Regions from separate parts of the Homo sapiens genome. Here regions 2, 3, 4 and 5 are each linked to region 1. The links come from fine-mapping of genetic effects on gene expression. A gene starts in region 1. Each other region holds a variant in brackets. All regions are shown on one strand. Distances are from middle to middle.

Region 1 (5,111 bases):
TTTAATAGAAGGAAGATACTATTCAATTCTGATACTGTCCTTGGTCTGTTTCTGTATTTGACTTCAATAATTCTCATATAGGAAAGTTCTGTTTAATAAGGCTATATAAAATGTTACTGGTACCTTCACAGTTTTCTGCTTATGATTATCAAAGAAAAAGCTCTGCCAATATGCAATTTTTCAATGTCAATTTTATTAAAGAATGTTTTGATAATTCTGTAAATGCTTTATAATCCCACAGCAATATGTGTCCGTTGCAGCATTATTAAAATCTGTATTTATATCACTATTTACTTATTGCTTTGAATTAAGAACATGAAAAATTTTATCTCGAAACTTTATCATATATATATCATACAATAAATAAGTCATAATGTATTAACTATATATTATGACTAACAACCTGCTGTAACTTTAGACATACAAAAATACCTCTTAATGAGTGTAAAATGTTAACTCTTCTTTTGAGTTCAGTATACCTGTACCACAGTGAGTCCTAGGACATTTGAATCAATTCTCTCAAGCCATTTGCCTATTTGATTATGAATCTCTGTTTGGTCACTGGGCATAATCTTACATGGACCTCATTCTAGACACATATATCCATAAGCAACAAAAATAAAGTAATTGGGATCCATCACAATAACTATGAACAAAGTAACTATCCACATGATCTGGAATTTGCCCATATTTGTGGCTTGTTTTCTGTATACTGTTTTTGATGGAGATATTATAGTCCCCTAATAATACATATACCTACTTCAGCTTAAGAAAAAACTATATTTTGCCAAATTTTGTAATCAGACTGGGTTTAAATACCAGCTCTGATGACTCATAACTCTGATCTCGAGAAATTTACTTACCATCTCTAAACATTAATTTCTCAATTAGGGAAGTGATATGACAAAGTTGCTGTGAAGTCAAATGAAGGAATGAATGCAAAATCCCAACCCTTTACATATTACCTCTGTTCTCAATTAATCATTGGCTTGAACTGAACATTTTTAACATGGTTCCCTGCTAAAGGTGTTTTTACATATAGTAAGACCTAATAGATAATATTATGTTACATAATCTATAATTATTATATATAAAACTATATAAAATTATATAGTACCTATTTAGACATATAAAAAGGGAAGTTTTTTAATGAAAAATTAGATTGGCTGAAGAGTGTGGAAATCATCACATAGGGAAGTGGTCAGCACTGTGGATATACACCAAACAGTATTACAGAGACATACTGAAAATAAAGCACACTGACAGAAAGAAACCTCATTAGGATAGAATTTTGGGAGATTGGTGTCTTGTTATTCCCAGAGTCTGACTTTTCTAATCACGTAGCATTGTCAGGGATATCTAAATTTTAAACTTCAGATTTTGTACAAAAAAACCTAAAAGGACTATATTTTAAAATAAGAAGCATGTACAAATAATTGTAAAGGAAAGAGTGTGAGTTTTGTAGTCTCCAGTTCTGTGTCAGTAAGAATTTGATGAGGAATAGCCAATAGCATTTATGCTGGTCCAGGCTGGATCAAATTGTGATCGTACTTCTAGTCTTCAAGCTGCCTGGTTAGAAATTATGCAGCTTACTTTGATGCCTGTCCTACTACTACTATTAGCCTTTTAGTGGTTACCTTAAGAATAACTGAATAATACTGTTACTTTGCATCTCTCAAAGACCGTGCGCTGTTCCCGCATACTTTCTTGCAGACGTATTGTCTTCTGAAGGATGGTGCCCATGGGCACAGCAATTTGGGGCATCTTTTGGTAGGAAGCATGATTTCTCCTGTTTGGGCACAAAAGAGTGACTACGGAATATAAGCTAAACACCTTCTCCCAGAAATATCAGTTGTAAAACTTAGCTCATTAATGTAATGTTGAACGTTTTCATGTGAGTCATACTTGAACTTCTTGAATGTGAGTAAATAACGGAGTTGAATTGTATAAAACCCTGATGGATGGCAGAAGGGAAAGAACATCCCTTTCATCTGATCCATGCCTGAGATTCCTTCCCTCTACTATACTACTGGAAATAAACAACTTGTCTGGTGCTCTAAAAATTAATGCTATTATCATTATAGAGAGAACAGGAGTGAGTGCTTTTAGGTTATTACTTGTTCTTACTAAGGCATCATATTCTTTCTTCACGTGTTTTGTGTTTGAGGCTAGGGATAAAGGTACAGGAAAAAGGATCTAAGAAAAAAACTCGAATCTCTAAACATGGAGTCTTTTTTTTTTTTTTTTTTTTTGAGGTGGAGTCTCACTCTGTTGCCCAGGCTGGAGTGCAGTGGTGCGATCTCTGCTCACTGCAACCTCCGCCTCCTGGGTTCAAGCAATTCTTCAGCCTCAGCCTCCCGAGTAGCTGGGATTACAGGCGCATGCCTGGCCAATTTTTGTATTTTTAGTAGAGACTAGTTTCACCATGTTGGCCAGGCTGTTCTAGAGCTCCTGACCTCAAGTGATCCAGCCACCTCGGCCACCCAAAGTGCTGGGATTACAGGCATGAGCCACCACACCTAGCCAAACATGGAGTCTTTACTCAACATTATAGTAACGTGAAAGAGGAGATCATGAGAATTAATGTATGTTTTAGAAGGCATAGATTACTTATAAAAAAGGAAAGATCAGGCTGGGCACGGTGGCTCGCGCCTGTAATCCCAGCACTTTGGGAGGCCAAGGCGAGCGGACCATGAGGTCAGGGGATCAAGACCATCCTGACCAACATGGCGAAACCCTGTCTCTACTAAAATACAAAAAATTAGCCGGGTGTGATGGCACACGCCTGTAGAACCTGGGAGGCAGAGGTTGCAGTGAGCGGAGATCACACCACTGCACTCCACCCTGGTGAGACAGCGAGACTCCATCTCCAAAAAAAAAGGAAAGCTCAATCTGCTGTAAATTATGTGCTTGTTTCAACAACCCTTGTTTCTTTTCCTTTTCACTTCTCTTTTTTTTTTAAAGCGGCCTAAATGGGGTGAAGAGTGAGTTATCTGACAAATTTAGATTTTGCAAACCTGTGCATTGATGAGAGTGCTATTGAAACACATTAAGAAAGATTTTCAACGCAGGAATGTGTCATTTCCTTTCTTCATGTACCAGATGCTGAAATACTATGAGATAAAGATTTTAGGTTTCAATTGTAAAGAGAGAGAAGTGGATAAATCAGTGCTGCTTTCTTTAGGACGAAAGGTAAAGAAAAAAAAAGGCTTATTTTAATGTTTTTTCCAGAATTGTTTCTATTGATTGTTATGTGTGTACTCTGTGTGTGTGTGTGCATGCATGTGTGTGATATATATTTGTGTGTCTGTGTGTGTATGATGAGATGAATGCTTTATTGTATCAGCAATAATTTGGTTTGGTTTTTTTCGATAATCAAAAAATAGGGATTTCTGCTAAATTTTCCATGAGTGAAAAACATATATGTTCACAAGTACATATGAAATACACTAAATGCTTTGTAGTTTGAACCAGCAATGGGGTTTTTTCATATAATTAAGCATATTTTGTTTAAAATACTGGTTTTATTCAAAGTATAATTTGACATATTTCACCTATTCTCCTTTCATAACTTTTCATGGAACATTTTTGGCTTTAATCTAATGCCTTTTATTATCTTCCCTTGATTATATAGCAAATATTGGCTGGGTATCTACTATATGCACTTCATTGAACTAGATGTGGGGAAAGGATACAAAAAATAAGATATAGTTCTTTTTGTGCTCCGGAATCTTATGATTTAAAACATATCCCCAAATAGGCATAATGTAATTTGAGCACCTTAAGTAGTATGAAAGTACTATAGATAATTACTAGCACCTTAAGTAGTATGAAAATGCTATAGATAATTACTATGAAAATATAGGCGAGGCCAAAATTACTTCTATGTGAAAAAAGTCTATCAAAAATAAATCTTCATGGAGATGCTAGAAATCTGATTAATCTTGAAGACTAAGTAAGATTCACACAGCATATAATGGGAGGTTGGCATTTGCACTGACCAGGTAAAAATACTTATAGAAAAACCATAGAACTGAGATTACAGATGTTTTATGCAGTGATTAGCCGTTTTATGCAGTGGGTAAGAGCTAATCTTCTGGGAGTAGACTGCCTGTGTTCAAATTCCAGCTCCCCTGCTCCCTAGTTGAGTAACTTGACTAGTTACTTACACATTTCAGTTCCCTAACCTGTAAAATGGAGAAAATACTACTTGTACCTCATGAAGATTCCGTGAGAACAAAATAAGAAAAGCTCATATTTAAAAAAAAAGTGATATTTTAAAATAACAGGGATTCATATATTGATGGTTTTCTGTGTACCAGGCAATTTACAAAAATTATTTTTAATTCTCGCAATAATTCTTTAAATTTATATTGTGATCATATTTTACATATCTAAAGAAAGTTCAATTCAAATAAGTTAAAATATTTGCCTAAGATCACACAGCTAAATGATGTCACAGTCAATACTCAAATCTAGATTTCAGATTCAAAAGTTGATGCTCTTTCTTCTTTGCTACCAAGGATGAATATCAGTGACATCAGGCACAATATAAATATTTCCATTTCTTACTAAAATCTGTCTTACAGACGGGTTCCTTAAGCATAAAGCTGTTAGTTTCACAAATAATCTTAATTTAATTTTCATTTTATATACACATTCAACTGCTGTTACAAAAATCAAAGTTATTATTTTATATAATAAGGAGGATCACAAGCTTATTATTTATTCCAAATGTTGAAGATAAAGTTGGCCTTAAGAATATGATGGGCCGGGCACGGTGGCTCACGCCTGTAATCCCAGCACTTTGGGAGGCCAAGGCAGGTGGATTACCTGAGGTCGGGAGTTCAAGACCAGCCTGACCAACATGGAGAAACCCTGTCTCTACTGAAAATACAAAATTAGCCGGGCGTGGTGGTGCATGCTTGTAATCCCAGTTACTCCGGAGTCTGAGGCAGGAGAATCACATGAACCCAGGAGGCGGAGGTTGTGGTGAGCCAAGATCACGCCATTGCACTCCAGCCTGGGCAACAAGAGCGAAACTCCATCTCAAAAACAAAAAGAAAGAAAGAAAAAAGAAAGAATATGATAAAAAAACTAAATAGGGAAAA
Region 2 (5,111 bases), 350 kb before region 1:
TTTCTCACTTTGGGGGACCGAGGCGGGCAGATCATGAGGTCAGGAGATCAAGACCATTCTGGCTGACATGGTGAAACTCCGTCTCTACTGAAAATACAAAAAAAAAAATAGCCGGGCGTGGTGGCAGGCGCCTGTAGTCCCAGCTACTCGGGAGGCTGAGACAGGTGAATGGCGTGAACCCAGCAGGCGGAGCTTGCAGTAAGATCGCGCCACTGAACTCCAGCCTGGGCGACAGAGCGAGACTCCGTCTCAAAAAAAAAAGTGTTTCTGTATCAGTTGAAATTATCATATAATTTTTCTCCTTTATTCTCTTCATGTGTGGAATGACACTGGATTTTGGGTATTTTGTGCAATAAAAGTCTGGAATAAATACAAAATGGCCAATATATGTATTCATTTATAAGTGTTTGGTTTCAGAGTTTGCATCCATGTTAATGAGAGGGATTGGCCTATAATTTTACTTTCTCACAATTCCTTTGTTGATGTAACAAGTCAGGTCGAGCTTATAAGATCAATCAGGAATTATTCCCACTCTTTCTGTATGCTGAAGAGTTCGTTAAGATTGACATTATTTCTTCTTTAAATATTTGGAAGAATACACTAGTGAGCCATTTGGGCCTAGATTATTTCTATGGAAAATTTTGCTTATGGGCTTAGATGTTTCAACAAATGCAAATTTTATTAAAATATCTATTGCTTCTTGCATTTTTTTTATTTTAGGAATATAGCATATTATTTAATTTTCAAATGATATTTCTCCTATTAAAATCTTTTAAATATCAGAATACTTTTTTCCTAACACTTGTAAATTTTACTTTCTCCCTGTCTCCTTTTTTTTTTATCCATCTTGTCAAAGTTTTTTTTTTTAATCGCTTTTATTGGTCTCAATCATTTTTTGACTGCGTACCTTTTATTTAATTTTTTCCTTTTCTTCCATAATCTTCCTCTTATATTTATCATATCCTTCTTTTTAGAGTCTGTTGCTTTTTTTAAACTTCTTCCGTTTTATTTTTCAATAATTCAATGTTAATTATATCACACAGATTTGGATATGGTATGTTGTCATCATTCAGTACAAAATATTTTCTATTTTCCTTTGACTCATGGATTCCTAAGAAGTGCATAATTTAATTTAATTCCTAAACATTGGACAATATTCTAAGGTATCTATTTGTTTCTAATTTTCAACTTACTTCCATTGAGGTCATAGAACATATGGTATCTGAATTCCATCTATTAAAATTTGTTGAGGCTTGCTTTATTACGGTGGTTAATTTCAGCAACTGTCTCGTGCCTTTAAGAATAATATATATTCTGAAGTTTTGTGGTTTAGTGTTCTATACATATCACGTCAGGTTTGTTATCAAAGCGTCTGTATCTATACTAATTTCTTTTGTTGGTTCTTCCAAATATTACTGAGTTATACATGTTAAAATCTCCCAGTATGTTTTTAGATTTACTTATTTCTCCTTTTAATCTTATCAATACATGCTTTATATATTTTGAAACTATGGTATTGGTTGCATATACATTTTGGATTGATATATTGCCTAGTAGATTAATCCATTTACCTTCTTACAGTTCACATCTTTTCGCTGTATTTAAGTTACTATTTAACTGGATTTAAGTTTTATTTTCAATGATTTTAGTTTTAATTTTATAAGTTCTAGAATTCTCTTTCAAAATTGTCTCGTGATGGTTTACAGGATTTTTTTCTTGTTAATATTTCTGATAACATCTTTTATTTCCTTAAGCATTTCATTAGTTTTTACCTTTTAATATATAATCATTTCTAGATCTAATGTGCTTACTCTGCTCATTATTCTTTTTAACTTCTTTATGTTTGCGTTGGCTTGTGAAAATTTCATTGTTAAAGTCTGGTAATATTTTCACATTGACTTCGTTTTTTACTACAAGATGGAAACTCTAAAATATCTATCTCATTTTGGAATGTTTCTCCCAGAG[A/G]GAATTGTGTTTACTCTTTTTGCTGTTGGCAGAGCCATCCTATGCCTACACATTAGTCTTTGGCTTTCCTTCTTCCCTCCTTCCCTGCCTCTCCTCCTCCCTTCCTACCTTCCTCCCTTTCTTCCTTCCTAGCTTTATGAGTTTAGCAGTGCAATTAAAATTGCTTGGAGTAATGTACACAACTTTTCACAATAGCTTGTTTGCCATACTTTCAGAAATGGCTGCTTTTGGTTATAAATTTTCACTGTCAGAAATTTTAAATTCTTCTGGAATTAAATCTACAAATATTTTCATTTGATAGCAATCTCTTTCCTTAATGCTTAAAACATTCTTATCCACACTATTTTTTTTACCTTTTATCAATTTATTTGCCTATTTATATTAAGATATTTATTTAATTCTAGCTCTCCTTTTAGTTCTTGACTTCGGGTAAGTTATTTAACCAACCTTTGCAAATTTTTCAGTTTCTTACTCTGATAAATGGCTTAATAATTGTCTCATAGTAAGTAAAAATATTGTTATTAATACTAACATTATTAATAAAAATAATTTAGCTGATATAGTCTATAAGGTAAGAATCTCATTTGAAGCTGTTTTAAATTGTTAGCTAATTTTCTTGGCAGAATTACTTCCTTATTGCTTTAGGATGTGTTTTACATACGTTACTGTGTCTTTCATTTAAATGCCTCTTCTTTCTTTAGAAAATAGCAACTTTGAGAAATATTATTTTTAATATAAAATTTAATATGTCTTAGGTTAAGACTTCCCCAACTCTCTTCATTTTTAACATTATCATCTCCATTCTTGCTAGTTAATTCTAGAAAAAATTATAATTCTTTTCAAAGTATTTTAATTATGTCATAAATCTATTTGCCTTCTACATTTTTTATCTCCTTAGATAGAAGTACTAATACATTTCTTAAACAAAAATTCATACAGAGTTCTTCAAAATAATATATATTACTTATTGTGAATTTAGTGTTAAGAGAATTATATGCATGCTTTCACCTAGGCTTTACAATAACACTTTGACGCGAATTTTTTTAAATGTTACAAATAAGAAAACTAAGACTCAAAGAATTAAATTATCTCACCAAATAAAAAGTTATTAAGTGGTGAATGCTACCTGTTATCATCTTATATGGATGTTTTTGTTCCTTCTTCCTTTATGATTTGCACTTTTTAATCTTTTTGGCATGTCAAAAAACCCAAATCATTATTGTGAGATTCTCTACTGAAAAAAAAAGAATTCAAAAATTAGCCGGGTGTGGTGGCGCATGCCTGTAATCCCACCTACTCGGGAGGCTGAGGCAGGAGAATCGCTTGAACCCGTGAGGTGGAGGTTGCAGTGACCTGAGATTGCACCACTGGACTCCAGCCTGGGCAACAAGAGCTAGACTCCGTCTCAAAAAAAAAAAAAAAAAAAAAAAGCCTGGGGCATAATGAAGTAGAAAAAACATGGACATTGGACAGCTTTGTAGAGTATCTGGCACAATAATTGACCCTCAGCAAGTGACTATGATTTTTCTTATAACTAATTTTGAATGGTAACAGCCACATACAATCAGAGGATGATTCCGGCTGCGCTTATACAGGTTTTCATTTTTTGTATAATATCTATGTGCACTATTATTATAATCAAAACCATTTTTGTTCAACTTCTGGAGTATCTATTTTGAAATTAAATTTTATCACCCTTTGAATGACTTAATCAATTTTTTCATTGCAGTAAAAAACAATTTCTCTTTATACTTTAGTATTTCATAAAATATTCTTTACTATTACAGATTTGTTGTGAAAATAAACAGATACAATAACCTATATCTCTATATTTTCTCATGATAGTGATTCAAATTATGATACCTATTAAAATTCATATGCAATGCTATAATTAGAAATAGGGTAAAGCAGATGGCATATTACTTATAATTCTGTTTTACAAAGGAACGTACATGTACTAAAGGAACCTAATTGCAGCATTTTAACATGTTTAGATATTGAAAATCTATTGCATTTCATAATCTTGTTAACAGTTTCTGCCTGGAAGAATATGATTAAATGGAGAAGGTATAAAAATAATTTCGATGACTCCCCTTGTATAATTCACCAAAACAACCTACGAAAAAAGACAATAAGGAGTTGGCAAGTTATTTAAAAATTTGTAATTTTCCTCCAACCTTTAAAAAACAACAGATGCTGTCAAGGATGAGAAAAAGGAACAATTTTACACTGTTGGTGGGAGTGTAAATTAGTTCAACCATTGTGGAAGACAGTGTGGCAATTCCTCAAAGATCTAGAAGCAGAAATACCATTTGGCCAGCAATCTCATTACTGGATACATACCCAGAGGGATATAAATCATTCTATTATAAAGGTACATGCACGCATATGTTCACTGCAGCACTAACCACAATAGCAAAGACAAGGAATCAACCCAAATACCCATCAGTGATAGACTGGATAAAAAACAATGTGGTACATATACACCATGGAATACTGTGCAGCCATACAAAGGAATGAGATTATGTCCTTTGCAGGAACATGGATGAAGTTGGAAGCCATTATCCTCAGCAAAGTAATGCAGGAACAGAAAACCAAACACCACATGTTCTCACTTACAAGTGGAAGGAAAACGAGAGAACACATGGATACACGGGGGTAGACAACACACACTGGGGCATATTAGGGGTGGGGAGGGAGGGTATTAGGAAGAATAGCTAATGGACCCAGGGCTTAATACCTAGGGGATGGGTTGATAAGTGCAGCAAACCACCATGGCACACATTTACCTATGTAACAAACTTGCACATCCTGCACATACAACCCGGAACTTAAAAGTTGAAAAAAGATTTTCAGATAAAAATGTGAATAAAGCAGACAATTCCTTTAAAATTTAAAAGATACAGTCATGGAAAAAAATATCAATGGGTTATGAAAGTGTACAATATGGTTGAACCCAATTTGGTTTATCATATTTTTAGGTGAACTGTGGGTTAGTTACATTAACATTTACCTAATTAATATAGTAACCTTAAAAATTAGATACTACATCCTCATTTTACAAATGAAAGAAATAACCACATAATGTTAAGTAGTTTTCCCAAGGCTATACAATAGCAAGTGAGAGGCTTAAAAAGTAGGTACTT
Region 3 (5,111 bases), 350 kb before region 1:
ACTCCGTTAAGCAAATTTGAAATCATTATAGCCCAGTTTGCTTGTCTATAAAATAAAGGGATAGAATTAGACTGTCTTTCTGCTCTAAATTCCTATGCTCATACGTCCAACTGGATGATAATATTAGCTACAAATCACGTGTCTATGTTCTAGTTTAAATTTTCTCTTTAGGCCTATGACTTTGGGCTCAGTGTTTATGTTTTGAAGATCTTTAATTTCCTCAAATAAAAAGTGATAGGGTTTAAACAGATGATTCATTTCCAATATCTATGAAATTCCCTAACATTTGTACTTCTTAGATTATAGTAATATTTAAAGCTATGAAGATGGGTTTATTGCACTGTCTCGTAGTGTTTCAGTGTGATAAAGTTAGGATTGTTAAAGAAACACTTCTGCCATGCACAGTTAGGCTCATAATTCAAGAAAGATTGCAGTTCAGAAGGTAAGAGGGTAATATGAGAGCCATTATTCTTGGGAAGTCTAAGATGCTGGAATCCAAAGATGAGTAGACTTGACCCTGGAGTTCTTTTGTCTCCTGTTCCAGATATTCTGGCTTTTTCTTATAAGACCATTAACAAGAACACTTGTATTGATTTTTATTTGTCATATAAATTGTAGGAGTTAAGACTTGAGCTGTTTTCTTCTACAGGGAAGGAATTTAATCTAGTGTAAAAGCCAGTTGATGAACTATTTAGAAAAATAGGTGATAGACACTGGAACTACTTTATTATAAGCCATAAATCCTTAATTTGATCTTGATTAATGTTATAGTAGAGCCAGAACCCACAAATTTTTATTTAGAGAACCTTTGGGATTATGTAAATCTATTGGACATAAATGCCTTTGAGAATGCAAACCTCTAGGTTACCATTGTTTAGACCCAAAAATAAGATTAGTAGACATTTACTTCCCAGTTACCTCAAATTCTTTCCCCATGATATTTAATAAAATTTACACTTATTTTAGATTTCATTATTTGCAAATTGAGTTTCTGGCTAAGTTCATTCACCAAAATGAGCAATGTAGTTTTTTCTAATATTCAAAAGTTTTTTTAGTAGTGACTGTGAAATTATAAATCGGAGAATATAAAATTTTATCATTAGAAATGATATGTTTTAGAATGCATATTATTGAAACTGTTTACATACTTTTGTATATAATACTTACTGAGGTTGCTTGTAATGACAAAACTTTGCTAAAATTAGGAACATAAATAAAGATACCCCACTTCACAAAAAGTTGCCACAGAATTAAGTCAAGTAACTCTACATTAAATTTAAAATACAATGCAAAATGTTGATCATTATTACATCCAATTTTAAGAAAATATTTTTGTACCAAAACAGAAAGCACAGTGAATATGGAGACACAAATTTGAACGAAATAGCTGAAAACTGAAAAAAAAATTTTTATTCAGAGTCAAGACATTTTTGTTTTGGTTATATGTCTCATGATATTTTTGCTAAAGAGTTGGAGTCATTATTTTTCTTTCTTTAGAAATATTTTAAAATCCATTGAAATCATACATTCAAATTACTACTACTCATTTTATGAAAGCTAAACAGTATTTTCATACATTACAAGTTAATCATTTATTGCCAGATATCAATCTATAGCCAGACTATTAGGGCATTCAAGATATTGATCAAAATACTGAAGTCCAGATATATGAGGTTTACATGTCATTATGACTAGTTTAACTGATCTATATTTTAGTGTTGCAGTTGACAGGTAATATGTTTATAGTTCGTTCTTTGGATCAACATGTTGTTGAAGTTTCCCCCCAGATTTCTGCAGTGTCTTTAAAGATGCTTTATGAAAAAAATGTAATGGTAATAGTAAAATCATGGCTGTGACTTGCCTTTTAGTCACCAGGGACCATTAGAAAAACAACTAGCTAGAGCTGGCTTCCTTTGCCTCAATGGATTCCTCTAGGCTCTACCTCTCACCTTCAAATATATACTCACTTTTTCTTTCCTTGTTCCTCCAGTTTAAATCCCTTTGTCTCACCGGTGTTCTTTTTCTCAGTTTAACCCCTTTAGATTATATTTGGGTATGGGATTCTCTGCCTGGCTTTCATTTCATCCCAGGAAGTGGTTTCTCAGATCAATCTTTTAGTCTCTGCACAAATGCTCTATGTGTGTCAGGTGACACCTAAATCTGCCCCAGGGATATTTCAGCATTTTTGGTGGCCTCTACTTTTTTCTGGGAGGAAGCACCTGGTATTACTAAGAGTTATACTTCCTGTCAGTGATACTGACCTGAGTTCAGGAGAAAGAAAGCACACAGACCATAAGTTTTAAGAGAGGTGAATTTTATGTGTTGTTTTTGTCTTTAAATAAATGAAAAGTTGGTATTTTTTCATGGTTAATAAAATGTCAAGCCATTACTTGCTGCAATTTGTCTTATTATGTCTATGTCATAATCAGTTGAAACAGTTGAGATTAAATCGAAGAAACAGAATCCTACTTATATATGTGATAAGAAACTTATGATAAGAATTTGACCTTATATATTTGTAGCAGCTGGTTAAAGTCTGTATAAAGCTGTTTTGTGCTTGGGGTTGGAGCCTAACATCAGTAGAGCGGGTAGTCAGGAAGGCAAGATGATACTAAGTAGAACAGAGGATGGATAAGCTGGAATCCATGATGGCAAATTGAAACCTTCATATTTCTCCCTCTGCCTCTGAGACTTCAACTTTGACCATAAGAATACCTTCTAGGAGAGCATGATGTCCTTCATCACAGAATTAAATTCCCCTCTCTTTTACAACTTATGG[T/A]TATATAATGTCAGTGCGCTTTCTTTCTGCTGAAGTCAGGTCGGTATCATTGACAGGAAGCATAATTCTTAGTAATACCAGGTGCTTCCTCCTAGAAAAAAAAAAGATGCCACCAGAAAGAATGAAATATCCCTGGGGCAGATATGCTGTCCCAACTAGGATCCTGCAGAAGCCACAGGATGTTTAAGTGCTGTGGGCCAAATGGTGCCCCATACAGCCCCAGTGAGCCAGCAGCAACTGACAATACGTGTAAGCTGAATTCGTACGTGGTGTTCTCAATTCTTGTTTCAAGCATAGGTACATAGCTGCTGTTTCACTTTTACCTGCCAGCTCTTGCACAGAATATCTCTTGTGGCTTGCATTAACTTAGAACTAAGCAAGACAGCAGTGCTGGGAAACATAACTTGGTCTAGCTAAACTGACAAATACAAATTCACCCAACTGCATACAGCAATTGCCATATAAATTTACATGACCACAAACTGTATATAAGAATTCCTATTGGGCTTCCCATTCTCACCAATATTTGTTTTTGTCCAACTTTGTTTTTACATTTTTGCTATGATGGTCACTGTAAAATTATATCTCATTTTGATTGGTTTTAACTTGTACTTTTCTAATTCGTGATGGATTGAATATATTACCATGTGCTTACTGACCACTTGGGTTTCTTCTTTGGAACTGCCTATTCATATCTCTTGCCCTATCTTTCTATTGGGTGGTCTTCTGTTTGTCAACTTGAAGGAGAACTTTATAAATTCATGTTATTAATTTTCTGTTGATTTATCATTTTCAAGTATCTTTTCCCAATTTGTGGTTTGTTTTCTATGTTTTTAAAAGGTTCCCCTTAATGAACAAATTTCTTATTAAATTTAGTGATAATGAAATTTTAAGAGATTTTAAGAAATATTTTATAGTTTATATTTAAGTATACAAGATAATTTTTTAATATACATAATGAAATAGTTCCTATATTCAGGCAAATTAACATATCTGTCATCTTACAGTTATCCCTTGGAGTGCATGTGTGTGTGTGTGTGTGTGTGTTTGTGTGTGTGTGTGAGGTCACCTAAAATCTACTCTCTCAGCACACTTCCAGTATACAAAACAATATTATTAGCTATTATCCTCGTGCTGTACATTAAATTTCTAAACTTATTCATTCTACTAATTGCAACTTAGCAGCCTTGGAACTACATATCCCCATTTCCTCCCTACCCCCAAGAGTTCTTAATATAATTACTTTTTGGTATTTTGTTTAGGACATCATTCTGTATATTAGGCCATAAACAATTGTTAAGTTTTACACATTTCTTTCTTTCTCTCCTGTTCTAAAGCATGCTGTGAGATAAGTGTTCTATCACTATTGTTTGCCCCTTATGGATAACACATTGTCTCAGCACTAATTACTAAGTCCTGTCTTTCTCTCTAATACACAGTATTTATATGTAACAAGTTTCTGTATAGGTTGGTTCGGTTTTGGGGTTCTATACAAATTACTCTAGCTTTGTAATAAAACTTGATAATATTTCTTGGTGAGTGCTTTAGCTGTCACTGCCCACGAGATTTTCAAATAAAATTTCAAATCATAATATCAGTTAACTAAAGAAATGTAGTTTCCATTGGAATTGTATTAAATTCATAAGCCAGTTTGGGTTGAACTAATTGTCCTGTCTTTACACATAGAGTATCTCTCCATTTATTATAGTCTGCTTTAATATACAAAATTTTATCATTTGTTGGTATAAAGTTCTTGTCTAACTTTATGTGGGATTATTTCTAGGTGGCAAATAGATGCTTTTTGCTAAAAATTACTATATCTAATAATAAAAGTATGAATTGATTAAATATTCTTACCATAGTTTCTCGACCTTTGGTATATTTATATTATACAATCATGCATCTGCAAATAATGATAGTCTTTTTTTCTTTCCAATTATTAAATCTTTTATTTTTCTGGCCTTATTACACTGTCTAGAGCCTTTAGTACAATCTTTTTTCTTAATTTTTTTATTGTGATAAAAAACAGGATTTACCATCTTTACCATTTTTAAGAGTACAGCAGTGTTGATAAGGAGCTTAAAAAGAAATTATTTAGGCAGTTAGTGAGGGTAAGAGAGTCCTCAGTAAGGCTTCCCTTTTTACAAAAACGCAGCCCCCATATCATTCCTTCTCTAACAAAGAGCAGCCTGTAAAATCGAACTGCAGACGTAGATAAGGCAAGCTGGATGCTTGCACGGGTGAATGCTGGCAGCTGTGCCAATAGGATAAGGCTACCTGGGGGCCAGGCATGTTCAACATTGAGGCTCCCTTTTCCCTTTTCTTTGTCAAC
Region 4 (5,111 bases), 310 kb before region 1:
GAGCTAAGACTTACAGAAAAAGTAATCTGCCTTAAATGCCATTTTCTCTTTGCTTGGCCCCAAATGGCTGAATAAAAATGCTGAAGCTTCAGTCTCTTTAATACAGAAATAGACTTCAGTATCTGATGCTATCATCAGGAACTATGTATCTTGTGTGAGTGATTTTTTTTTGCTGTGAGAAGCAAGGTGTATTCATTGCCTATTTCTGTGGAACAAATAATCCCTGAACTTAGCAACTTAAAATAATAAACAGTTATTGTTTCATGATTTCTTTGGGTCAGGGATCTGTGTGTGGCTTAGTTGTGTGTTTGTGGTTCAGTGTCTCTCACAAGGCCGAAATCAAGGTGGTGGCCAGGGCCACAGTCCTTTCAAGGCTCACCTGGGAGAAGAAGGATCTGCTTTGAAGGTTATTCACCTGGTCATTGTCAGGCCTCAGAGGACCAATTTCCAGGCTCACTCACATGCTTACTGTCAAACACCAGGATTTTGCTGGTTATTAGCTGGAGATCTCTCTGAGTTCATTTCCTGCTGTGTGGCCTTTCCATAGGGCAGGTGAAAATATGGTAACTGGCTTCCCTCCGTAGGGCAGGTGAAAATATGGTAACTGGCTTCCCTCCAAGCAAGCAATTAAGAGAAGAAGAGAGATCATCTAAGAGAGAAGCAAAAGTCTAACCTCAGAAGTGCCATCCAATCATTTACGCTGAATCCTGCTCCTTAGACGCAAGTCACTAGGTCTAGCCCACACTCAAAGGGAGGAGGTGTGACAAAGAGGGGAATACTAGGAAGTGGGTGGGGATCACTGAGGGTCGTAATGGAAGTTACCTACTACAATCTGGCTTTACGTTTTAGTTTTTTAAAAAATCATTCACACACTCCAAAATCCCAGTTAATGGTTTTGTAGCTTACTGCATAATCCTGATTTGTTCTCAAGTTTTTAGTTGTCTGTATTTATTATTATAAGCTGCAGCATTTTTTTATTTATGAAAATAAAGAAATTGAAAACACAAAGGTGTTGCAGAATATGGGAAATCTATACTTAACAAACGCATGGAAGATGACACAATATCCCATCCACATTCCATTTCTCTTGTGAAATTTGTCACAGTGGAGGGAAAATAATGCTATGCTCAAAAGCCTATAGGTAACAGCAAACGATCCAAGTCAAAACAGTTCTCATCTATTCTTCAGAGGGTGTCTAAACTGGAAATATAGTTGATATTTTGTATTAAGTGCAATTGAATTGGTTCATGGTTTTCCTCTTTACATGAATTTACTAATACTGTTGTATTACAAATGGTACATTTTATAAGAGCCATAGTTTACTTTGTTTTTATCTATCTTTGGAGAGCAATCAAGAGACATAGAAGCAGATAATCAGAAATGTGAGGAAGGGTCTTTAGGAATTACATATATATTTGTTTCTATAAGTGGAAAGATGTTACTGAAAGGCAATAATTACTAATGGAAAGAGCTCAGTAGCTGGTTTTTAAATATTTCAAAATCGCTAATGGAAAATGAATATTTAGCCATGATAAAACTGTATAGACTAAATGATTAGTTTATTTGCTTTTTTCTGTAGTTCTATCACTGAAATATGAAAATTGTCACGTATCTGTAGTTCTCATTAGCATATATTTGCAGATGTGTGTATATATGTGAATATATATGTATGTATGTGTATATATATATGTGTGTGTATATATATACACACACAAACACACACACACACACACACACGCCAATAGTGTTGGTCAAATAAATTATTGTTGAGTAAATTCGGTTGGATGAGCAACACACCAATATTAGTTTTTTAAAAAATGTTGAAAACAACTACTCAACCCCTGTATTTACAAATGAGAAAAATTTGACACAGAAATTAAACTGACTTCTTGCAACACATATAGCCAGTTAGTGGCAAATTTGATGTTACAACCAAGATTTCTGATTCTTTTTTTTATTTCTTCTAAAAAAAAAAGTAACAAGAACAACAGAAAACGGGATACATGTGAGGAACATGCAGGTTAGTTACATAGGTATATGTGTGCCATGGTGGTTTGCTGCACCTATTGACTCATCCTCTGAGTTCCCTCCCCTCGCCCCATACCCCTCAACAGACCCTGGTGTGTGTTGTTCCTCTCTCTGTGTCCATGTTTTCTCATTGTTAAGCTCCCACTTATGAGTGAGAACATGAGGT[A/G]TTTAGTTTTCTGTTCCTCCCTTAGTTTGTGAGGATGATGGTTTCCTGTTTCGTGCATATCCCAGCAGAGGACATTATCTCATTCCCTTTTATGGTTGCATAGTATTGAATGGTGTATATGTACCATATTTTCTTTATCCAGTCTATCATTGATGGGCATTTGGGTTGGTTCCATGTCTTTGCTATTGTAAATATTGCTGCAATAAACATATGTGTGCATGTGTCTTTATAGTAGAATGATTTATATTCCTTTGGGTATATGCCCAGTAATGGGATTGCTGGGTAAAGTGGTACTTCTGGTTCTAGATCCTTGAGGAATTGCCATACGGTCTTCCACAGTGGTTGAGCTAATTTACATTCCCATCAACAGGGTAAAAGCGTTCCTATTTCTTCACAGCCTCGTCAGCATCTATTGTTTCCTGACTTTACTAATCGCCATTCTAACTGGTGTGAGATGATATCTCATTGTGGCAAAACTCCTGATTTTTAAGCCTCTTTTATTTTGGCTATAAACCAAGACTCTGACTTCATCTAGGTAAGGGCCAACTTTCTGAACAGGAAGAAAGAAAATAATATTTTTTAATTAGGACAAGCATGAAGACAAGAATCTAGCCTCCCTGGACAGCAGATGTCTTTCTTCTTTCTGCTCCAGGGCCTTGTCCCAAGAACCTATGTAGCTATGATGGACAAGATTAAGTAACAAACCACACAAGGGCTGAAAGCTGCTGGACAAGTGCTCTGGTCACCTGTCCTTAGGCAGTAATTTTGGAAGGTATTTTGTATGCTTTCATTAGTTCTAACTAAACTGAAGCCCTCTGGAGGTTCATTATGACAATGTTGATAATGTGCTTTTGTTTTAAATCACCATTCATGTGGTTTGACATACATAGAAATATTCACCGATTTTATGTATATGTTTAGATGATTTGTGACATATATATCGTCAGTTAAATATCCTCAGAATCAAAGATGTGGGAAATTACCATCACCCCTCAGTTTCTGCACATCCCATTAGTCAATGTCCTACTCCCATCTCTTGCAATAATTGATGAACTTTCTTCACTATAGTTTTACTTTTTCTAGAATTTTATATAAGTGGAATTATACAATGCAATGTCTCTTGTGTCAGGCTTCTTTCACAAAAAGTTATTGATATTGTGCGTATCAATATTCCCTTCCTTTTCATTGCTAAGCAGTATTACATTGTATGGATGTGTCATTTTTTTTTGCTTATTCATGTGTGATAGACCAGTTGTGGTATGCCCACATGACTTTCTAGTTCTGTGAACATTCACATGCATTAGGGAGCATATGTGTGTTCATTTTTCTTGGGTAAATGTCTAAAAGTGGTATTGGTAAATCATTTGACAAGTATATGTTTAACTATCCAAGGAATTAACAAAATAGTTTCCAAAGTGACTGTGCCATTTTGCATTCCCACCAGAAGTCATCCTTATCAATGTTTGCCTTGACCAGTCTTTTTAATTTTAATCATTCTGTAGCATGTGTAGTGGTATCTCACTGAGGTTTCAACTTGTATTTCAACTAATGACGTTGATCAGGGTTTTGTGTGATTTTTTTTTTTTTTTTGCCATTTATATATCTTTCTTGGTTATCTCTGCTTTTTTCTGTCTCCAGTTCTTTCTTAAATTATTTGTCATGTTAATGAGTTAGAAAGAAGTCTTTATTCTGGATTAGAGCTTTTTAACAGATAATTACATATATTTTCTCTGATATATCTTTTGCTTTTTCATGTTTAGAATCTTTCAAAAGCAGGAGCTTTAAATTTTGAATGAGTGTAATTTATAATTTTTTTCTTTTATGATTAATGCTTTTTAACTTTTTAACTTAATGCTTTTTTTGCCTAATAAATCTTTGCCTAAGCTGAGGACAATTCTCTTCTCCTGTGTTTTCTTATGGAAGATTTATAGTTTTAGGTTTTCTGAACAGGCCTATGATCCCTTTCAAGTTAATTTTTTGCATATCACTGCTTCCATCCTGTTCCGTTGTTCTATATGTATAGCCTTATGTCAATACTGTGCTGGCTGATATCATTGCACATATTTTGTTGCATATTTTAAGTATTTCATGTTTTTTCATGTGATTATGTTGTAATTTTAATTTAAATTGCCATTTGTTTATTATCACTATATAGAATTACAATCGATTTTTGTATATTGCTGTTATGCCCTGTTGCTCTGCTAAACTAACTTAATAGTTTCAATTGGTTTCTTTAACAGATTATTTAACGTATTCTACTAAGAAGATAGCATATTCATTCTATACAGACACTTTTACATCTTTCTTTTTAATTTTTATGCCTATTATTGCTTTCTCTTCTTTACTGCACGGCCTAAGACTTCAAGTAGTCCATGATCATGAAATGCAATGGTTGTAATACATAATGCATTATCCTGAAGCAGCTGGCCCCACAGAGCTCTGACACAGCCTTCTAAAAGCACAGTTAAAATGCCAGTTTAGAGACAACACTCTGAAAGAATGGGTGTTATCCTTCCGGGTGCATTACATGCTTTAAATTAAAGATTTATATGGTTCATTGTCCTCAATAAAAAAGGACACCAAGGAATGAAAAGTGATATACAATCAGTCTCTAAGACTGAGATGGTTTGTGTTATGCATTCCCACAACTCCGATTTCCATTGAACTGAAGGTCGTGGTTCCCAGTGTGGCACACTCTTGCCAGAGTCAAATAAAGAATTCCACTGGGCCACAAGTTATGGCAACTGCCAGGGCTCTTTGGACTTTTTGTGACCAGGAACCAGCAGATGAGAAGAGGAGTCACTATAAATCAGAGAAACCAGCAGGTGAGAAGAGGAGTCACCATAAATCAGAGGCAATTGACTCTGGTAGACAAGAAGACGTAACACTGCTTCCAATCAGTGAGCGCAGGGGTCTG
Region 5 (5,111 bases), 33 kb after region 1:
TTGTTCTCCGTTCTAAAAGCACCTCGGGCATTTCTTCTGGGATTATTTTCCTTCTGCCTGAAGTATATCTTTTGGAAGTTCATTTAGTGAAAGTAAATTGATCAAGAAACCTTCTGATTTCATTTTCTCTATTTTGACTTGATCTTTGAAATTGTTTTACTATATACACACTTATTAGGTTGACAGTTATTTTGATTCCTTCTATCAGTGTGCTGAAAAAATTGGTCCCCTGGCTTCAAGCTTTTCTTGTGGCTCTTAAAATGACTGCCACCAATCTGTTTGTCATTCTCTTTGTCTTTCATATCTGCAGTTTTACTTATCTGTGGTTTTGTATTGATAATTTATCCATCTAACATTTGCTGTACTTCTTATATTAGTGGATTTATGTCTATCAGTTTGGGAATATAACCAGCTTCATTCACTTTGACTATTGCTTCTTCACGATTCTTTCTCTCCTTTCCTCTGTAACTTACATGAAATTCATATTGGATGTTCTCATTCCAGCTTCCATGTCTGTTAAGCTCTATTTCATGATTTTAATATTTTGTCTCATTTTATATCATTAGCAACTAGAAAAATAGAACTAAGAACTTCATGTGACTTCATTTCAAATACACTAGTTTGAGAAAATTAAGAAGCCTAATAATCAAGTGATGACAATGAAAAAAAGAATAAAAACAAGTCCCAGAAAACTATATATAGACAATTTTTACTTCTAATGCTCATAGTTAGTAAAATTATGTAAATTTACAGACACATAAATATGTAATATAATCATTGTTTTAAAATTTAAGAAAATGATAAACACAAAATTCAGGGTAATATTTATCTATGAAAAGGAAATAGATGAATGAGATAGGGGAACATCTAGGTAGATACCGATTTCTTGGATTGTGATGTTGCAAGGGTATTCTCATTATTGTTGTACTTTATAGCTTGCTTATACAGAACACATATCATATATAGTATTTATCACAATAAAACAGATGATAAAGAAAAATTTGAATTAATCAGATTTTTCTCTAACAGTTAGATACCTCCACTTTGGATTTCAAATAAATGTCCGAAGCTTTACAAATTCAAAACCAAATCCTTGCTTCTTAACTAGCCACCCGCATCTGCCTCCCCAAATCTGTTGCGTTTTCAGTCTTTTTGTTGGTTTTGTCATTTTCCAACTACCTGCTCACTGCCTGATCTTGGAAGCTGTCTTTGACTTCCTTGCTCTCATTCTCTATGTAATCCATTTGTAAGTCCTACTAATTCTTATTTCATACAATATCTCAAACCAAACTTCTTCTTACTCTCTACTACTACTCTAATTCAAGCAACCATATCCCAGTCTGGTGTATTACATCCGCTTCTCAGTTGGTGTCCCTGGCTCTGCTCTTAGTCCATTCTAAATAGCAAAAAAAAAAAAAAAAAAATGCTATTTAAGAAAACCCACACAAATTACTGGATGTGTGTGGTTTCTCTCTTTACACTAGATGTGTCTTTTCTCTCTCTTGCTTAAATCCTCCAATGTCTTCTCATTAGTCTTGGGATAAAATCTAAACTTCTACTTGGTCTGTCACCTGTCTACTTCTCTGCCCTAATTTTCTCAATCTTCCCTCTGTCATCCTTCTGCCTAGCTTGGAAATGTGGAAGAATGAAGTGCCACGAACAAGTAAAAGTTAATATAGAAAAAGTGCTTGTTTCATTTCATGCTGTCCATAATGAACACTAGACATTTTCTCTTTCTCTTGAAAGGTTCTTCTCTACGTCTCTACTCCTTCTTGGCTCCACTTGAAGTTACCTCCTCCACTTTCCACCATTCTTATTCTAAACTCCCCCATCTCTCTCTACCATGATTTGCTTTAATTTCCTCATAGTTTTTACCACTATATGAAATCATGTCATCTCTACATTTGCTTACTTGTTTAGCTTGTATCTTCTCCAGCAGAATGTGAGCTCTGTGAGGTTAAGTCTTCTCCTCCTTGTCTACCTCTGCAATCCCAATGCCTGTTAGAGTGCCTGGAAAATAGTGGGTGAGCAATTACATATGTGTTGAGTGAATAAGTGAAACTAAGACTTTTGTCTTAGCAAGTTACACTCTATAATAGCAGTGTCATTCTTCCTGGTTTCCAAGCTATCAATTTTAATTATTTTATATCTCCCAAGACCACCATTAGTTCTCAACATTCTGTATTCTCTGTTCCTTTGTCATTTCTTTATATCCTCGTATAAATTATTCTTATGACTCTTTGCCAGAGTTGCAATTGTTTCCTGCCCAGACTGTAATCCTTTTTGCACCCTTGTAGAATACAGCCTTCCTAAAGGAAGTCTTAGATTGCATAAAGACTCTCTGTTGCCCCGTCATTAGACATACAGTTTTGCCTGTA[G/A]CACTCAAGGTCTTTTTCAGTGTGTCTCTTAACTAGTCTTGAATGCTTCATTCCCTCGCTTGTCTTTTTTGTATATCAAATATTTCAACTAATTTGACTGTGATTCTAATGTACCCAGTACTTTGTGCATCCTGCCTCATGTCTTTTCCTTTATTTGAAATATTTTCTCTTTGATTTGTATTCGAAGATATCTTGTTTATCATTCAAAGTCCATCTAAGATGCCACCTCTTGCATGAAGCCTTTGCTGGTTCTACCAATAGTAAGGCCCAGCTGATACTTATTTCTGTCTTAATATGGAACATTAAGTATTCTCTCACAAGAGAATACTTAATGTGATAGTTATGTATAAAAGTATCTCATATTCTCTTCGAGAACAGTGTTCACTCTTCCTGGACACAAGCTACTTCCATTAGAAACTGTTCTTTATATCTCTTATAGCACCTAGCCATAAAATATCTATTAATTAAATTATAACTTAAGAACCATATTTTAGAAATTAATGAGTGCTTTATCCTTTATCATGTGTTGATTGCAGAGTTAGTGTAATTACTTTGTGTTCTCTTTTCCCTTATATTAATAATCACTAAATAATTATACAGTTAAAAGAGACAAAGATTTTTTAATACATTTCTCAAATAGTTATAATAATTAGAGCCTTAAAGAACTACATAAAATTTCATTGTGGAAATGGTGAAGTAGAGTTTGGTGGAGAGTTGGGGATAACGTGATTTAAAGAAGCAAAGATGAACTCTAGAGAAAGGTATTTAAGAGAAATAAAATATAATATGACTCTGTGGTGAGAATAGCTAACATTTTGTTTATTTGGAAACATTTTAGATATATTGGCTTCCTAGGATATGAAAGCACCAAAAAAGAAATATTGATTTTTATAGTAGAGAAAATGAAAAAGCAACTGAGGGCATTTGAATTTGGAGTTTTGTATAATTAATTACTGAGATTGTAACAGCTGGACTGTAGGCTAGAAGTGGTGGCTCATGCCTGTAATCCCAGCGCTTTGGGAGGCTGAGACAATATAATTCCAGCACTTCAGGAGAGTGAGACATGAGGGCCTTTTGAGCCCAGAAGTTCAAGACCAGCCTAGGCAAAGTAGCAAGACCCTATCTCTGAAAAAAAAAAAAAAAAAAAAATTAACCAAAGGAAAAAAACTGAATTGTGAGTTTGTCTAACCACTATGTAAAGGAAAAATTCAGCTGAGGAATAATGGAAGAACAGATGTGGAAAATGAAGTCAATTAAATTTAGAACATGGTAGCATAGGATCAGGAAAGAAATGAAATTCTTCTAGTTCTGATTTAACCCAACTAGCTTTAAGACCTTGAGCAACTCACTCTCTGACCCTCTATAAATATGTTTAGTTAAACAATGTTTAAAGTGTCTTCCAGATTAAACATATCTAAATCAATGAGCATGAAAACTAGAGAAAAAAAAAAGAAGCAGGTTTAGGCAGCAATAGACTAGAAGATGTGGCAGATTTTTATGATGATCTGAATATGAGACAAGATTGAAAACGGAGTAGAAGATTAATGCTCATAATGAATAAAAACTAGAGAAGCATCGCTCTGGAAACTTAGTCAGATATTATTAGTGCTATGTTATCGTCTGAGGATTTTAAATGATATGATACACCTGGGTTTGTTTTTCTAGTAAATTGTGTAATTTTGTTCTATGATATTGATGATTATCAAATATTATATATCAGTACTTTTTTGTGGTTATATAGAAATATTACTTTTCCTTTTTAAGAAGTAATCATGGAGGAAGCTACATAGTAGATTTTGTGCATGTGTTGTATAAAGGTAATTCTTCATGGCAGATTATTGTGATAGTATTTATGAATTATTCCTGTAACTGTAATTGGAAATATTAAAGATGAAAAATAATGTAAATTCTATGGCTTCTTGAACTAGAATAAATCATATATTTTGGCCAATATTAACCCATTTTTTTTGACATGTATCAGCAAGGGAGCTGACAGGTAGCATTTTGTCCATTTATTGATGCAACGAGGCAGTTATTATGTCAGTATGGAACAAAATTTTGAAAAGACTAAATGGAAACTACGAACAAAAGGTGACTACAAGAGACTCTAAGTCTTTATTCTTTTTTCCATAATATGACAGAATAGGTTACTGCATTTCCTTAATTTGATAGAGACATTGCAAAACGGATTCTTATCAAAAAGAAGAAGAAAGCCAACACTGAGGGAACTAGGAGGTGAAACAGATAAAACACATTCAGACTAGATTAAAAATCTCTAGCAATAGTCCAGCTGTGTGATGGTGAAGACGTGAGCTACAATGGGAATGGAGAGGAGGCTAGTTTTGGAAGGTGGCAAGGTAGTGGATAGTGTTCTTAAAAGTTCTGCATCAGAAACTAAGAGTAAAGTGGTATATAATTTGTTATTTTATTCCCCCAATGAATCTAAAAGACACTTAAAACATTTATTGAGATCCTTCCAACATTTTGTTAGAAACAGTAAAAGATCTATAACAATGTACAAAAATGAAACATAATGTGAGATTAATGTTACATGAAGAATAGAATGACAATAAAAAGGTACATTCAACATGCCTAGTTAGAACTCTAACAAAAATCTTTACCTGTTTTTCTTATTGTAGGATTCGAATACCAGGTATCAGTATTTTTATATAAAAATACAGAGAGGGATCTTTAACTCCAAATTTTGTAAAATAATACTGATCTATTCGCTGT

What was found.
Region 2: its variant is fine-mapped to the expression of MSR1 in T cells (TOPMed, PIP 0.97).
Region 3: its variant is fine-mapped to the expression of MSR1 in whole blood (TOPMed, PIP above 0.99). The same link has a PIP of 0.9 or more in blood mononuclear cells.
Region 4: its variant is fine-mapped to the expression of MSR1 in whole blood (TOPMed, PIP above 0.99).
Region 5: its variant is fine-mapped to the expression of MSR1 in whole blood (INTERVAL, PIP 0.99).

Annotation. Positions count from the first base shown.
Region 1 is chr8:16,190,679-16,195,789 of GRCh38, reverse strand. MSR1 (macrophage scavenger receptor 1) reads left to right here and starts at 3,139. Exons shown (of 10, transcript NM_138715.3): 1 at 3,139-3,192.
Region 2 is chr8:16,538,278-16,543,388 of GRCh38, reverse strand. All of the region lies in intron 6 of LOC101929028 (a long non-coding RNA gene), which reads left to right. Among named protein-coding and RNA genes, the nearest start is that of MSR1, 350 kb to the right of the region's middle. The variant A/G (reference allele first, on the strand shown) is at 1,966.
Region 3 is chr8:16,545,373-16,550,483 of GRCh38, reverse strand. All of the region lies in intron 6 of LOC101929028 (a long non-coding RNA gene), which reads left to right. Among named protein-coding and RNA genes, the nearest start is that of MSR1, 360 kb to the right of the region's middle. The variant T/A (reference allele first, on the strand shown) is at 2,780.
Region 4 is chr8:16,505,258-16,510,368 of GRCh38, reverse strand. All of the region lies in intron 7 of LOC101929028 (a long non-coding RNA gene), which reads left to right. Among named protein-coding and RNA genes, the nearest start is that of MSR1, 320 kb to the right of the region's middle. The variant A/G (reference allele first, on the strand shown) is at 2,195.
Region 5 is chr8:16,157,347-16,162,457 of GRCh38, reverse strand. All of the region lies in intron 5 of MSR1 (macrophage scavenger receptor 1), which reads left to right. Among named protein-coding and RNA genes, the nearest start is that of MSR1, 33 kb to the left of the region's middle. The variant G/A (reference allele first, on the strand shown) is at 2,379.